Regions from separate parts of the Homo sapiens genome. Here region 2 is linked to region 1. The links come from fine-mapping of genetic effects on gene expression. A gene starts in region 1. The other region holds a variant in brackets. All regions are shown on one strand. Distances are from middle to middle. Region 1 holds the start of ZNF496 (zinc finger protein 496). Region 2 overlaps ZNF496-DT (ZNF496 divergent transcript).

Region 1 (5,308 bases):
CCGATCACCAATGGCGTTATATTGCAGAATCGCTGATTTATTATTTGATTCCCCTCCCAACTCCTTGGATCATTCTTCTATGGTCTCCCCATGGATCGAATAATCATTGGCACATAGCAAACATTTCATAAAAACAGATACAATTGGCAACATTATATTCATACAAACCTAATACACGCACACACTGGGCATGATGATGGTGCAGTCCTTGAGCAGGGTTTACAGGCAGGATCCTCTTCCCGATGCTTCACCCGTGGTATCTGATACAACCCCACTTCATTCAGAGGCGAACACCTTCCCCACGGGCTCCTGTGCCCCCACCCAGCTCTATGCCATCCCTCTCCTCTCACTCACCAGCCCACCTTGCTTCGCACCGCTCCCCCTTAGGGCCTTTGCTGTCAAGGTGGTCTCCATGTGTCAAACAGGGACTCTGACCAACTACTTCATCTCAAATACCACCTTCACAGTAAGGCCTGCCTGCCCTCCTCTTTAATACCATGACTGTTACCAGCCCCTCCCCAGCACTCCTGACTTCCTGATGCCTCTCCACTTTCCTTTTTTTCTGTAGCACAGATCAAAGAGAGCAGGTCATGTTACTGATTTTGCTTCCTCCAATAGCCAGTTGTGTTCACAGATGTACCTGAGCACCTGGAAGGCTGGCTGCCTAGCACTCATGAGTGTACAGTAGGTACTCGGTATAGGTTTGCTGAATGACTGAATCTTTGATCCTGCACAACCATCCAATGAGGTAGACAGCATCATCCCTGTTTTCTGGATGAGGAAGTTGAGGTACAGAAAGGTTATGTAGGCCTGAGGTCACCTGGCTAGGAATTCATAGGGCAGGATTTAATCCGGGTGCCTGAGTCCAGAACCTTGACTCTGAAGCCCTGTTTTGAGCTAAATGCAGCAGCAGCATAAACAGCCCGTTTTGTGCCTCAAAAGGTGAACAGTGGGAGGCACAGCTGGGCAGGGACGTGTCAGGTCAGGGGAAGAAACTGAATTGGGTAGTGGGGATTAATTGGATGCTGTCTGCCAGCAATTTCTGCCTCCTGCATTTTATCTGCTTTAGGGTTGCAAGGGGCAGAGCTATGAACACGGATGCCCACTCAACAGCCAGTTCCTGGGCCAATCAAAGGGTTGGGAGCTGTAGCACCAGAGCTCTGGAACCCCACAGACTAGGATGTTTGCTAGAGCACCTAAGCCCTACCAGCCTTTGATGACCCCTCGGTTCCTCCCAATTCCTCTCCTCCATGTCACGGTTCCTGGCTGGTGTTCCTGAGAGTGGGCTGTACATGAGTTCTGTAAATGCCAGTCCAGTTACGTCAAAGGGGGTGGCTCTCACTTGTACCTGTAGGCTCCAGCTAAGATCTGCGTGGCCCTGCCCGGCATCTGGCTGTCATCCGGGAAACAATCACTGTTCACAAACAAGGGCTTCACTCCTTCGCTCGCTCCATCTCCTGCTAAAGTCAGAATGTGAACACTGACAAACAGCGGCTCCCAGTAACTCTGCTAGTCAGAAGTGATTATTCCAGCAGTTCAGAGGAGGAAGTGGCGGTGCCCAGGGCCACGGGATTAGAAGAGCAACGGAGCTAAAGGATCCCGTGCCTCAGTCCAACCACCTTGTTCCCACTTACTCAGCCGGGCCACTTTCTTTGGAGAAACTGATTTCCTTCTGCTTGCCCTTGAAAGGGGATCCGAAGGAAATCGGAGCTACCGGCAGTAGCTACCCTCCGGAAGACGGAGAATCTTCTCCACCTTCTCCTCTGCGTAGGAGAATCCAATTTCGGTGCAGAGCAGATGGCGAAGGGGCCATGGGAATCAGACCTGCTCAGGGACCGGGTTCGCACTTTCTCTCAAGCTCTGGAGCCTGAAAAATGAGCATTCCCCGGGGACGACCCATGTAAGAATTTGGGCTATATTCAGCATAGTGCAGCGGCCAGCAGCCCTGTCTCGGGGTGGGGTCCGGAGGCCCCCATTTCTGCTTGCCCCTCACTGCCACATAACCTTGGGTCAGAGTCCCTCATCCTCTCCCTCCGCCACTGTGCACAGCTGCAACCGTGTTCACTTCAGCGAGCAACGAGCCCCGTGACCCCCACTCAGGGTCAGGACTCACCGCAGCCCCTCTGCGCAAGCCCCGAGGCTCTGCGTGGCCTCCGGATGCGCGGCCTTTCCTAACCCGGGGACTCCGCACGTGGGCGCCAGGCCCGGAAGGCGCGGATGTGAGCGCTACCTTCGGCGTCCCGCAGCGGCAGGAGGGGCTGGGCGGCCCGGGCTTCGGCTGGCGGCGGGGGGGGGGTCGCAGGGGAGTCTGAAATGAGGCGGCCGACGGCGCGCGGGGCCTCCTCTCTCCGCTCCATCCCGCACCCCCAATTCCAGCTTCCATCCCCAGCCGCGACTCCCGGTCGGCCGTTCCGGGCGTCCACTGGCCGCGTGTCCTGGGGGCGCCAGAGAAGGAGAACAGCGGAGAAAAGAGCCCCGGGCCGACCTTCCGGACCGGCGGGCCCGCGGGGAAGCCCGGGCGCGGCGACGTGGCTGACCCACAAAGCCCCCGGCCCGGCGGCCAGGCCCAGGCGCGCGCGGAGCGGGGCGGGCCGGGGGTGTCGGATGTCACCCCCAGCGCACACCTCGGCCGGGGGGCGGGGGAGCGAACCACTGAGATGCGGAGACCTCCCCAGTCCTAGAGCGGAGCAGGAAGTGTCCCAGGGGAGGGAGCCGGAGGGCTCCGGCCTTTCCTTTCCTCGGCGTCCGGCGGGCTCCCGCGGCGGCCAGGCCTGCGCCGCCCGCCAACAGGGACGCGCCGCGGCGGTGAGTGCACCCCGGCTCCCGCGGCCGGCCCCGCCCCGCCCTCCTCGGCCCGCGCCCGGCCTCCGCGGCGCCGCCTCCCAGCCCAGAGCCCAGCGCTCAGGAAGGTGCGGGCGGGGGAGAAAGCAACACCATTGTTTTTCAGGCGCCTCCATTTGCCCCCGAGCCGAGCCGTGGCTTTCCGGATGATCGGGAGACGCGGTCTGGACGGGCCGGGAAAGGAGCCGGGCGCCTGCGGAGACCCCGCCTCAGCGAGTACGCCCGGCCGGGCGGGCTGGGAGGATGAGGACGGCTGCCCTGGACTTCCGCCGCCACAGGAGGGTTTTCGGCCGGACGCCGGGAGGGAGCTCCAGGCTGTGAGGTGAGGAGCCCGGAGCCGGCGAGACGGGAGACGCGCGTGTGAGGGAGACCGAGGGCGCGGAGGGCGGGCTCCCCCTTCCCTGGCCCACAGCGACCTTCTCCTTCCCTTTCTGCCGATCCAGCTCGGTCCCTCCTCCGCGAAAGGCTGGGAGCTCGCTCCGCCCCTGCGGGGCCCTCCTCCGCCTCACTCACGTTAGTTCATTCATCAGGCATCTCCTCCGAGCCTCCGACGCGCCAGGTGCCGCCGTGACAAAGACGGACGCGGCCGTCTGGTTGGAGACGATCCGAGTGGCAGCCCGGGTGGGCGCCGGTGCTCGGGGGGGCGGGCCTGAGTAGTCCTGGGCGCTGCAGGTGTGTGATGGGCGCCGCAGGGGGCCGCCGAGCAGGGCGGGCGGGGCCCACCCCGGGCTCCAGATGCCGGAGCCGCCCTGGAAGCGATCCGGTGGTGGGGAGCGCTGTAATGCGTCCAGCCCGACGCCGCCACGGCCCCCATATGGGTTTCTGTGTATGTTGTTACTTTGGAAAGCAAAGAGATTCAGAGCAGTGGGTGTTTCTGGAACCACTCAGTTGTTCCGTAGCTTTTCTGGCATCACTTGTCTTTCTGTGAAATGGGAGTGAGGCCCGAGTCCCCCTTCCCACCTTGTGAGCTGTTGGAGGTTAAGACGCGGCCACGCTGGACAACCTCGTGCAGATGGGGGAGTGGCAGGCACTGCCGGTCCTAAGGATCACAGAGGCCTGATGGCAGAGAAGGGGACTGTGAGTGTCCCCATGTGCCCTTTCACGGGCCCAGCGTTCTAAAGTGGGAATCATAAACACCAGGTATACTGGTTGCTGGTCTCTTGCCACCCTAGTTGTGGCAAAAGTGTCGGCTAGTTGTCTGCACACCAGCGGGGAGGTGTAGGGACCCCTGAGTCCCACCTTGGGGGTGTGGCAGCTGCAGTGTCCAGGGGTTCTTTGAGGGCTGAGCTGTGCAGTGACGGACCCACTTTTCTGTCCTGGCCGAGGAAGGGCTTTGGCGAGTGTGCAGTTGCCTTCAATGTGGTTTGAAGAGGGCAAGGATAGAGAATAGGGTGGAGGCGAGGTTGAAGGTCAGGGCAGAATTGGCAGAAGGCTCATAGGAAACCACTGATACTTCTAGATGCAGTGTTATTTGTCCCTGGTAGACTGCATGTAGCTGTCTCATGTGATGTTTTCCCTTGCCTCCCATTGCAGACTCTGCTGGGCAAAGCTGATTCTGGCTGGGTTGTCCATCCAGCACGCAGCACCATCAGCCCTCTGCCACCAGAAGGGTGGATTTTCCATTCCTGGATGTGCTTGAAGGCTCATCCGATGCATGTCTTTGTCATTCCAGCTCCATTTGTAAAGGTCTTAATAACAAGAACAGTGACTTCGGCTCCGGAGCTTCAAGATAGTGGCCTGCTTGGCCTGCCCATCTCGGATCTCTCCAGGAGGACCCAGCCACCCAAGGTACCAGAGCGTCTTGATTACATCTGCATGTGGCGCTGTTGGTTTCCTGGGATGCTCAAAACAGCAGTGTCACGTTGAAATGCCACCACTTTCTCCCAGATTTCCTGTCTTGTTCATCCAGTCACCCACTTAACGGGAATCCACACGTAATGGTACTGATGGGGGGAGGGCATCTTTCTGTCTGTTTCATCCTGTGTGTAAAGACCAGCCACACCAACACTCCCTACCTTTCCCAGGGCTTCTCCAAAGGGCTGGTCTCTGAGGGCATTGACAGTTTCCTTGTCACTGTCCCCCAGAAATGACCACAGGAGACCAGAACACTGAAGCCAGTGATTTCTGTTTGGAAATAGGGTCGTCTTCTGCTGCTGACCCCCATCAAATCCCATCATGCCCACAGCCCTGTGCCCCCGAGTCTTGGCTCCGAAGGAAAGTGAGGAGCCCAGGAAAATGAGGAGCCCACCTGGAGAGAACCCTAGCCCCCAGGGGGAGCTTCCCAGCCCCGAGTCCTCTCGGCGTCTCTTCCGCCGTTTCCGCTACCAGGAGGCGGCGGGCCCCCGGGAGGCCCTGCAGCGCCTCTGGGACCTGTGCGGGGGCTGGCTGCGGCCTGAGAGGCACACCAAGGAGCAGATTCTGGAGCTGCTGGTGCTGGAGCAGTTCCTGGCCATCCTGCCCCGGGAGA
Region 2 (5,369 bases), 25 kb before region 1:
ATTATAATAGATGGAGTTAATTTAATTCGCATTCTTCTTAATAGTTGACCAGCAGAAGTGTCCTGACTTTAAACCCAGCACCTACTGCGTTTCAGGCCTTCAATTTATTAGGCAACCCTACCCCCACCAGGGTCTCCTATTGAGTCAACATACACATTGGGATTAAAAGAATTTGTGAAATCTCTCTGGTTTCAGTGGCCATGTGTATTTTGGGGTATCTTATGGGATGCCAGGGTGAAGGGAATGGCCAATGAGACTAAAGCACAAGTCCTGGTCCCATTGGACAGTAACAGGTTACGTAGGTTCCTTTTCCCATAATACTACCAGACATCAGCCCGGGGTGTATGGAGAGCTGAGTAATTGCCATTGCTCAACTCACCAGTGACGTTTAGGATGTGGGTACAAGTTGAGAGTTCTCCCATAGGCTTATGGAACTCTGCCCCCTGTCTAGAGAGGCAAGAGGAGTAGTTCATGTTCTCTGCAGAGAACGAGGGTATTGCTCTGGGATCTGAGCTCCGCAATGCAGGAAACAGCAATGAAAGACTCTTACAAGTCTTACTTCTCCTTACTTATATCATTGTGCTGGTATGCAGCCAACATGCAACACATTCCTCTAGAATCACTATTCCATCCCAGGGGAAACGGAACCACCTGCGCCTGAGGTGGTCCTGCAGCACACGCGTAGCAGTTACTTTTGCTGAGGGCTTGTACCGAAAATATGACCCATTTGACCCAGGCATTCACATCCCTATACCCTGTCTCAATTTCTAAGGTTTGCCTTAAATCCTTTACCTCAATTATTGTTACCATTTTAGGGTTAATATTTGGTAGACTAAAGTGTTTATTAGGGTCTGGGGTTGGAGTAGTTCCAGGCAAATGGGAGGTTGAGTTCTTGATTAGCCTGAGATCAAATCGACCTGGGGGTCTTTCCTTGTGATGTCTTCTCCTAACCCATATACCTGAGATGCTACTTTTGGTTCTTGGTCTAGAAAGGCTGAATTGTCAAGGGTGATGAGTATAGGATGGCATTCTAAATTCTGGCAGTTATTTGGTGGGGAGCGCTTGGACAGAGGTAGTTTATGCTTCAAGGGTTTCCAGTTTGGAGTTACCCACACCATGTTTACTGTCCAACCCTGAAATTGGGTAGCGCACCATACATCCTCCCAGCTGGGGAAGGGTGATGCCCTACTGCAACCTGCATCTGGTTCAAGGCAAAGAGATTTATCTGCCTGCGAGAGCTGTCTCTGATTTTCTAAATTCCCACAAGGTAAAACCTGACAGGCATCAAATCTTATAGTTTGGGGTGCTACCGTCTTAATCATATTAATCACCAACCTGATTGAGCAGTGGGGAGTCCCCTGCCAGTTTCCATTTTGACCTTCTGCTCTTTGTATACTAACCCATCCCAGCCTTATTACCTTTCAGAAATGCAGCCAGCCCACGCTTTCTTTCTAAATTTTTCTCAGAGTTAACTTTAAGTGTTCGTCAGGTGACCCATGCACTTCCCACTGTTCTTTCTCCTTCCCTTTCCAGGTCTCTTTTACCGGCCTCTTGATTCCAGTGTAGTGAGTCCACCCCCATTCAGCTGTTCGCAGGGCTGTCTCAGGGGCAGAGGCACTTGACAGGGACCTTCCCAGCTTGGGTGGAGCTTGTCTTCTTTCCAAATCTTAGTCAGCACCAAGTTGCCAGGCTGGAAGTAGTGAACCATGAACTCAAGAGGCAGAGCTTGCGTCAGAAGACCTTTTAACCTGAGGGATGACAGGGTGGAAGATATGGCCAGTATATCATTTCTTAAGAATTGGTTTTTGGTTTCCATAGTGGGAGGATCTGTAGCCCTGCCCAAATATGGGAGTCCATATAATAACTTGTAGGGGACAATCCCAAGTCTTTTCTGGGGACTGTCCGAATCCTAATCCTAAAGCCATGGGAGATATTTGGTCCAAGGCACTTTAGTTTCTAAGTTTAGTTTGGTGAGATGCTTTTTGAGAGTTTGGTTTATTCTTTTTACCTTTCCACAGGATGCCAAGGGGTGGGATAATCCCATCAAATTTGTAAACCTTCCATAATTCCCCTTAACACTCTTGAAATAGCTTCCTTTCTAATCTCGTGCGGTTCAAAGAAATCACTTCTCTTTTAACAAAGGGTAGCCTGAAAGTTCAGGCTATAAACTACAGATAAACAACTTAAGCATAGAAGGAGGCGGGGGATGTCTCCTGGGTAAACACCAAACTTCACACTCCCACAGTCGGGCCCAGTATAAACAGTGGGCCTTAATAAGCACATTCCTTTCCCTTTAGGCACATTAAGATAGGGAAGCTAAAGCTGACTGGGATGGGGGGGCGGTGGGAGATGCCTGCAGCTGCAAAAAGATGGCTGGGAATAGACACAGAATCTCTCCCTCCCAGATAAGCAACACAAAGAATTAGAGTATTGGCCAGGCACAGGCTCAAGCGTGTAATCCCAGTACTTTGGGAGGCTGAGGCGGGTGGATTACCTGAGGTCAGGAGTTCCAGACCAGCCTGGCCAATGTGGTGAAAGCCCATCTCTACTAAAACTACAAAAAGAAATTTGCTGGGTGTGGTGGCACGCACCCAGCTACTCAGGAGGCTGAGGCAGAAGAATTGCTTGAACCCGGGAGGTGGAGGGTGCAGTGAGCTGAGATCATGCCATTGCACTCCAGCCTGGATGACAAGAGTGAAACTCCATCTCAAAAAAAAAAGTATTATATGGTGACATGCAGGGTTCTAACAGTCCATTTTTAATTAATCCCTCTATTACTGGTTGGAGATCTTTTCTCCCTTCAACAGAAATGGGATATTGTTTTCTGCAAACTCCTCCT[G/CCTG]GTTGTTTTAGTCCAATCTGTAAGGCTGTGATTCTTAAGTGTCCCCGCTTGCCTTTCCCAAACCACAAAACGGGACTAATTTTTCTTCCCTCCTCCTCTGTTAGGAGGCCCATCCTTACTTTCATTTGTCCTTTCTGTGTATCCCTAATCCTAAACTGAATCTCACAATCAGGTCTCTACCCACTAGGTTAGTTCCTGCTTCAGGAATATATAAGAGTGACCCCTCAATGTGTTCTGGTCCCAGTCTAATTAACATTGTCTTGAATATCAGAACCTGTAATCCCTCCCCTTTTACGCCTAATACTTTCAGTTTTTCCTTAGAGAGTTCTGTACCCTTTGGTTTGTGGATTAGGGAGGAGTGAGCTGCCCCAGTGTCAACCAAAAATGTCACTTCTTCTCCCTAAGGTCCCGCCTTCCAATTTATCAAGGGTTCTTGGTGGGACCTACTCAGAAGGAAGCCCTGACCCCCATTGTATTCATCAACGGTCATGAGGGGGATCATCTCTTCTTCTTTTTTCCATTGAGGACATTCTCTCTTAAGATGCCCTGGCTTTCCACACTTGTAACATCTAGCCACTCATAGTCTTAGGAGGTTTCCCCTGCATTTCCTTTCTTTCTCTGTGTCGAAATCTATCATTCCCTTGTCTCATTTGAGGGGGATCTTGAGCTAATCTTTTTTTGGCTACCTCTTCCACAGTGGAAATCATGATGTTCCCTTTCTGTTTCTGCTTCTCTTCCCCTCTTTTCACAAAGACCTTCTGAGCTTCACTCAGTAATTCCTCAATCGGTTTCTCATTCCATCCATCAATCTTTTGTAATTTTTTTTTTTGTAATGTCAAGCCAGCTTTTAGTAACAAAGTTAATCTGCAACAGGCCTTGCCCTACTGGGTCCTCCGGATCTAATCTGGAGTATTTTCTCATCTCTGAGCCTCTGCAGGAATGTGAAGGGAGTTTTCTCTTTTTCTTGTTGAATCTCAAATGCCTTTGAGACATTTTGTGTCCTAGGAGTGTACTCTTTGATCCCTTGAATTACTAGTTTCCTGAGGTCCTGCATTTGGGCCCAGTCCCTGGGATCATTATTATCCCATTCGGGATCAACATTTGGAAATTTTTGTTTGGCTGGCAAGTCTCACTGCCCAGGAGGGTGTTGCTTCTCCCCACTGGTCATGGCCACTCTCCTAATCATTCCCCTTTCTTCTCCCGTGAACAGGATATTCATGATAGACATCATTTCAGCCCAAGTGTAAAAGCTGGGTCCTAGGAATTGGTCCAGCTGGTCTGCTAAACCCAGGGGATCTTCTAGGAGTGGTTTCATTTCCTTCTTGCAATTCCTAACTTCAGTACTTGCAAGAGGAGTGTTTACAAAGCCAATCTCTCCCTGTCCCATGGGAACTTCCCTAAGAGGGAACATGCTAGATGCCTGCTGTGTGGAAGGGATAGGGAAGTTCTCAATATCCCTCTTACACTCTTGTAATTCTTTTCTTAAATTTGGATAAGGATTTAAAGGAGCAGTTGGCTTGGCTCCCCTGTAGTCTCTGGGTCTTTCTTCCTCTAACCCTCCTGCTGCCCCTTGATCTTCCTGTCCCCTTTTTTGTGAGACGTATGAAGGGGCAAGCACGATAGGGGGTCCCAGGGCTTTTCACTGGGTGAGGGCTCTTCACCAGGCTCTTTTTCTTCTTTTTTGAGGGGGATCATGGGGGCTAATTCCTTGATTCAGCAGAGAGTAACCTATCTCTTCTTGTGAGGATGAAGTTTTATTATTCACAGAGAGAATTAAAGCTTAGAACACAATCCTCATCTGAGCCAAACTTAGGCCAAAAGACAGAAGGCTTATGAATGGGGTCTTTGGGCCAGACAAAACAGCAATACTTTATCATCTTTTCCTTTTCCTTGTCCCTGGTTCGAGGGTTGTTCCACCAAACCTGCAACAATCTCCCCAAAGGACTATCCAGGGGAATGTCAGACGGAGTCTCTTTGGCTCCCTCTTTCCTTTGGCTCCCAGGCCTAGAATTCCTGTTTCCCATTTTCTGCCAGTCTCTGCGTCTGAGTTTTTCCCTGTCTACTCAACCCCCCTTACTGGAGGTTTCTTGCACACCCCGAGACCTCCAAAAATGCCCCATGACCAAGGCAGTACTTACAGTCCAATTTTCCTTCCTTGGCTGGTGCATGAGTTTGCCTGGTTCCCGCAGTGCCTGCTTTTCTCCCTGTGTTGCTTCTGCTGCCTCCTGAATAATAGTCTTGGGTTTGTTTATGCCTTCTATGGGAAGCTGGGATGCCCAGATAGAGCGGGCCACCTAAATCAGGTGGGACACATCTCCCCTCTCGGCCAAAGTCCCACTTCACACAGGCACATGGATCCCAGATGGGCCCCCATGCTTGTGAGAAACACACTCACCTGTCCAAATCCAGAGAATGGACTTAGAGGCCTGAAGAACAGTGAAAAGGAGACATTTAGTAACGGTCTTGCAAGATCAGGTGTCTGGTGGGCAGGCACAACTGGGGCAGTCACAACAGGTAATTTATCTTCTAG

The links. PIP is the estimated chance that this variant, and not a neighbour inherited with it, causes the effect.
Region 2: its variant is the best candidate, but not a certain one, in a credible set for the expression of ZNF496 in neutrophils (BLUEPRINT, PIP 0.59).

What each region holds. Positions count from the first base shown.
Region 1 is chr1:247,329,287-247,334,594 of GRCh38, reverse strand. ZNF496 (zinc finger protein 496) reads left to right here and starts at 2,728. Exons shown (of 10, transcript NM_032752.3): 1 at 2,728-2,805; 2 at 2,948-3,163; 3 at 4,514-4,629; 4 at 4,980-5,308. The coding sequence starts at 5,017. ZNF496-DT (ZNF496 divergent transcript) reads right to left here and starts at 2,541. Exons shown (of 3, transcript NR_168399.1): 1 at 1,349-2,541. RefSeq lists silencers at 754-1,048, 2,161-2,640, 2,771-2,880, 3,451-3,690 and enhancers at 2,554-2,848, 5,235-5,308.
Region 2 is chr1:247,354,153-247,359,521 of GRCh38, reverse strand. The region is part of intron 1 of ZNF496-DT (ZNF496 divergent transcript); the gene reads right to left. Among named protein-coding and RNA genes, the nearest start is that of ZNF496-DT, 25 kb to the right of the region's middle. RefSeq lists an enhancer at 1,493-1,792. The variant G/CCTG (reference allele first, on the strand shown) is at 2,840.